Regions from separate parts of the Homo sapiens genome. Here region 1 is linked to region 2. Evidence: fine-mapped expression QTL. A gene starts in region 2. The other region holds a variant in brackets. All regions are shown on one strand. Distances are from middle to middle. Region 1 overlaps LOC124900954 (a long non-coding RNA gene). Region 2 holds the start of SUB1 (SUB1 regulator of transcription).

The links. PIP is the estimated chance that this variant, and not a neighbour inherited with it, causes the effect.
Region 1: its variant is fine-mapped to the expression of SUB1 in whole blood (INTERVAL, PIP 0.90).

What each region holds. Positions count from the first base shown.
Region 1 is chr5:32,528,426-32,531,337 of GRCh38, reverse strand. It overlaps LOC124900954 (a long non-coding RNA gene), which reads right to left. Exons shown (of 5, transcript XR_007058719.1): 3 at 1,955-2,092. Among named protein-coding and RNA genes, the nearest start is that of SUB1, 56 kb to the left of the region's middle. The variant G/A (reference allele first, on the strand shown) is at 1,261.
Region 2 is chr5:32,584,164-32,587,075 of GRCh38, reverse strand. SUB1 (SUB1 regulator of transcription) reads right to left here and starts at 1,519. Exons shown (of 5, transcript NM_006713.4): 1 at 1,451-1,519. RefSeq lists silencers at 936-1,205, 1,246-1,345.

The DNA.
Region 1 (2,912 bases), 56 kb after region 2:
CGGAATACAATGGCTGGACAACAGAGCGACACCTTGTCTCAAAAATAAATAAATAAACTAGAAAAAGACATGTGAGGCTGGCTTTTGGGCATGTTTTATAGAGTAGTATCTCATGGGACCAAGGGACAAAGCAGCTCTGATACTTGTATAACCAGCGTGCAGCTGGTCTCATTAGCTGGTCTCATTTCATACTTGCGTTGTCCTGCCCCCTAGCACTCATCTGTTGTTTGTAAAAACTGGGCTCTTGCTGGGCGTGGTGGCTCATGCCTGTAATCCCAGGACTTTGGGAGCCTGAGGCGGGCAGATCACGAGGTCAGGAGTTCGAGACCAGCCTGGCCAATATGGTGAAACCCCGTCTCTACTAAAAATACAAAAATTAGCCAGGCGCGGTGGTGTGTGCCTGTAGTCCCAGCTACTCAGGAGGCTGAGGCGGAAGAATCGCTTGAACCCAGGAGGCGGAGGTTGCAGTGAGGCGACATCGCTCCACTGCACTCCAGCCTGGGCAACAGAGCGAGACTCCATCTCAAAAAAAAAGAAAAAAAGAAAAAAACTGGGCTCTCACTTTCAAATTCTCCTTCACACCCCATCTCAATTATTTGTGGGAATCCTCACATGGGCTCTCATGTATAATCCACAGACAAAAATAGGGTCTGGGAAGTAAGGGGAACAAGGGTAATAGAGTGTCTTGGCTCAAACCAGGGATAAGCAAGTCACAGGAAAAAAATCTAGGGACTTGACAGCAATCATCATCTTTTTTATTTTTGAGATAGGGTCTCGCTCTGCCACCTAGGCTGCAGTCCAGTGGTGCGATCTCGGCTCACTGCAGCCTCAGCCTCCTGGACTCAAGCCATCCTCCCACCTCAGCCTCCCAAGTAGCTGGGACCACAGGCGCATGCCAACCATGCATGGTGAATTTTGGTTGTTGTTGTTTTTGTTGTTGTTTTGAGACAGAGTCTTGCTCTATTGCCCAGGCTGGAGTGCAGTGGCGCAATCTTGGCTCATTGCAACCTCTACCTCCTGGGTTCAAGTGATTCTTGTGCTTCAGCCTCCCTAGTAGCTGGGACTACAGGTGTGCACCACCAAGCCTGGCTGATTTTTGGTTTTTTAGTAGAGACGGAGGGGTGGGGGTGGGGGGTTCGCCATTTGGCCAGGCTGGTCTTGAACTCCTGACCTCAGCCTCCCAAAGTGCTGGGATTACAAGCATAAGCCATTGTGCCCGGCCCAGACTTTTTGTATTTTTTGCAGAGACAGGATCTCACT[G/A]TGTTGCCCAGGGTGGTCTTGAAGTCCTGGGCTCAAGCGATCCTCCCACCTCAGCTTCCCAAAGTGCTGGGATTACAGGCTTGAGCGACTGTGCCAGGCCACAATCACCATCTTGAAAACAAGGTTTGTCCACCTCAGTTTGCCTGATAGGGAGTGAGAGGAAAATCTAGACAGACTTCACAGAGAAAATGAAACATTGGCTGGCTCTCAAAGAATGAATGCTGGATCCAGTGATGATGGCTTTGGGGGAAGACCTGATGAAGCAGATGCCCCTGTGCCTTGCCCCCCAACAGACTGACCTCCCCTTTCCAAACTTCAGTTGGAGCACTTGTACATTCATTCTATATTTTTTAGTCTTCTATTTTTTTTAATGTCCTAATCTTAGAATTAAGGCAAAAAGATAATTGTATGTCCTTTCACTGTCATGCTGGAGCATTGTCCGAACAGGTCCACCCAAGTGTTATTCATCTGGAGAATGTACCTTTGTTTGACTTGTTAATTATTATCATTAGGGTCCAGATTCTATGAAGTTACGTGTTAACTTGTAGGTTTTTGTCTGTTAGAGACCCAAATGATTCCTATTCTACAGAAAAGACAATCCTAAAGATTATAGTTTATTAACCTGTAGGACATAAACTAGATTTCCCTTTAACCTAGCTAACTTATTTCAGCATGTCTTTTCTGCTATACAAACCTCTGTTCCTTGAATTCTCCTTCAACCAGATTTATTATCTTTCTGGTCTCTTCATTAAATGAGTTAGATTGATATTTGACACATGCTCACTATATATTTGATGGCAGCATGTTTTTTACTCTTAGAGGGAGACTTAGCCTAAAAAAAAAAAAGGAAAGAAAAAAAAGAAAATTATCCTTTGGCACTCATTTAACAAATATTTATTGAACAACTTTTTTTTTTTTTTTTTGAGATGGAGTCTAGTCCTGTCGCCCAGGCTGGAGTGCAGTGGTACGATCTCAGCTCACTGCAACCTCCACCTCCCAGGTCCCGGTTCAAGCAATTCTCCTGCCTCAGCGTCCTGAGTAGCTGGGATTACAGGTACCCACCACCACGCCCAGCTAATTTTTGTATTTTTAGTAGAGATGGGGTTTCACCATGTTGGCCAGGCTGGTCACGAACTCCTGACCTCAAATGATCCACCTGCCTCAGCCTCCCAAAGTGCTGGGATTACAGGCGTGAGCCACCGCGCCCGGCCTATTGAACAACTATTATAGGCATCTTCGTCTGTTTAGGCTGCTAGAACAAGAATACCATAGACTGGGTAGTTTATAAACAATAGAAATTTATTTCTAACAGTTCTGGTGGTTGGGAAGTTCAAGATTACAACACTGGCATGTTTGGTATCTGGTGAGAGCCTACTTACTGTTTCACAGAAGGCCTCACAAGGCAAAAGGGGCAAGGGAGTTCTCTGGAGCTTCTTTTATAAGGGCACTAATTCTATTTATGAATGTACTACCCTCAAGATCTAATCAATTCCCAAAGACCCACATCTCCTAATATCATCACACTAGGGGTTAGGAGTTCAACATATAAATGTTGAGGGAAGCCTGGGCAACAATGGCAAAACTTCATCTCTACAAAAAAAAAAAAATATATATATATATATACACATATATATATAAAACATAGATTTATA
Region 2 (2,912 bases):
TTAAAGGGCCTAATAAACACATCACACACTGTATTTGTTTAATACAAGAAAAAAAGACTTAAAATTCCTCCTTAAAAAAAAATCATAAATAATCTAGCTCTCTAGATGAAACTTGCATTAGCACTGACATTGCATATGTTCCAAAATAGGAGGTCAAGGAAAAAGAAGTGGGCCACCCCAATCCTAGCCATTAAATTCAAAAAGCTCAATCTGATTTTAACTGGTAATGTCTTCAAGGGTAAATTCAGAAGGGAAAAGCAATGTTCATGACCACGTTTTATCCGTTTTTCCTGTTTCTGCTCCATTTTGCAACCTCATCTCTAAAATCAATTTAGTTAAGTTTTTTATGCTAATTAATACGACAAAAAGATATTTTTTAAAAAGGTAATTAAATTGAACATAATTTTTCACTTTGAAACTGTCGATCATAACTACCGTCTGTTATCAAAAACTGCCTGGGGGCCTAAGAATTTTTCAAAGAACCACCTGGTACTCAACCCAAAGAAGTCCACTGGAGAAGAAAGGTAACGGTAACTAAAACCAGCCTCTAAACTTTTAACAAATATATATTTACCTTAATGAGCCTGTTCCAATGTGGGGGTGGGGGGAGAAGCAGCTTGTAATTCAAGTAACTGATACTGAAACCACTATTGTAGAATTTATACAAAACGCAACTTTAAAAAGAGAAACGAAATCTTCAGCCTTTGCTGATTGAGGGAAAGATCAGAAAAAAACGAGGTGAAAATGAACCAGGACTGAAGGGCACACGACTTCGGTATAACAGGAAGGTGACAAGCACAAGACCAGGGAAGGGGTCGCGCGGCCCCAGCAAGCCGCTAGAACCCCGTGGCTAGCAGCCGCTCGGGCGAGGGGAGACAGGTTGGTCGGAGGGGGCGTGGGAGGCGGCGAAGTGCGGAGAAGACGGCGTGGGAAGGGGCGGGATTTGCACCAAGCGCCATTTTCTTCTCTCGAAGCGTTCCCTCCCCCTGCACATCAGCCGTTCTTCCCCCGGCCCCCTCCCGCCCGCATCCGCTCTCCCAGTCTCCAGAGCGCCCCGCTCAGGGCGAGGGGCGGGGGAAGAGTAGGTAACCGCACGCGCCCCACCTAGGCAGGCCGCCGCCGCATTGTCCCGGGGACGCCGCGACTCTCTCCCCGCGACTCCTCACTCCCCGGCCGCCCTCAATCTACCGCCCCGGGCCGCAGCGCCCGCCGCCTCGACTCGGCTCCCCGGGGACAGGAGTCTACCGCGGAAGGGCCCACAGCGCGTCAGGCGTGGAGTCAGAAACGGAGAAGGGGGCCGGGGACGCCGAGGGGAAGGGGGAGGTAAGGCAGAGCCGCCATTTCCCGCGGCCATTGCCGGCGAGAGGAGTGGAGGGCCGAAGGCAGCTCACGGCCCGGCTGGGAGGGTGGGGGCCCCGAGGAGTAGGGGTAGGGGGTCCCGCGCACTCACGCTTCGCTCGGCTCTAGCAGTCGAACACCCTCTTGGTCGTTCGCTCGCGACTGACAGAGAACCGGAAGTGACGGCAGCCAGGAGACGCCGGCCCCGCCGCGCTGGGGCTGCGGTCACGTGATGGGGCGTGGCCTCCCCACAGAAACCAACACTTAGACCCTTTCCAGGGCCTTAAAGGGACCGCGTCTCTTCCTAAATGGGTGACGCGAAAGTCAGATGTTGGAAGATTACATCTGACCCTTGAGAGAATGAAAGAGCTAATATCCTTCCTGTAGGAGATAGCTTAAAAAAAAATTAAAAAAAAGGAAAACGCCAATAAAACATGAGTGACAAGCGCCAAGCTTTGCGTTTGTTCAATAAATGTTTACTCTAATGAAGCGAAGGGGTCATAATGAAAAAGATCAATACTCTGGCCCATTTTCCCAGAAATGGTCTTCCTACCCCACTTCACCCACCTCAATACATGCCTCTGCCTCCTAAAATCCAAAGGAAGGAAGCTAAAGTCACAGCGTTTAATTCCAGAAAGTGCAAGAAATCTTTGGAGTACTCCTTATTCCTGTATTGAAGTCCTGGAGATGTAAGGGAGTTCACAGAAGGCAAGAGGAATCCATATACAAGCAGGAATATAGCTAAAAGATTATTTGAATATGTATTTGAATGAATACTTCCTACAGCTAAGAATCAATATAAAGGCATATCTATTAACAAAGATTTATCAAGCACCCACTACGTGTCAGACGCTGCAGGAGGCAATTTACATTACTCATCCTAACAAGCATGTTCCAAAGCAGAAATGACTGTTCTCTCCATTTTATAGACGAGGAAACCAAAGTTAACGCCCTATGGAGAGGATATTTCCTGTTACAGCTGAAGCGTGAATTGTCCTTATGTTCTCTCCCTCCAGACCCTATTTTCCTGCCTCAGGTAGAGGAATGGTATGGGATTTTACAAAGTAGAGGATGGAATCCTGTCGAAGCTCAGAATTGCACATCGGAGATGCCACAGAGGCTAAGGAAGGGCAGTGGGTTGCAGAAAGGGAGGAGTGTTTGGATCTACATATGGAGCAGTTAGACCTGTGGTTCCCACCCATCCCACCCTTATAGGAGAAGAGAGTTATATATTCCCTGCAAACATTAAAGCTGGGAGCGGAATGTGTAATGGGGTTGAGACGCAAAGAACACAGCGGATGGAATCAAAGTCTGAACACTAAACGTGAAAGCATCCCCCACACGTCCCTTTCTAGAATTACCTGACTTTTAAAGGATTAAATGCTGACAAAAATACAAACTAATCCCTTAGTTTGTTGTGAAACTCTCCATCATAATGAAATAAAAGAAGCCATGAAAATAAACACTGACATCAGGCGCGGTGGCTCACCCCTGTAATCCGAGCACTTTGGGAGGCCGAGGCGGGTGGATCGCCTGAGGTCAGGAGTTCGAGACCAGCCTGACAAATATGGTGA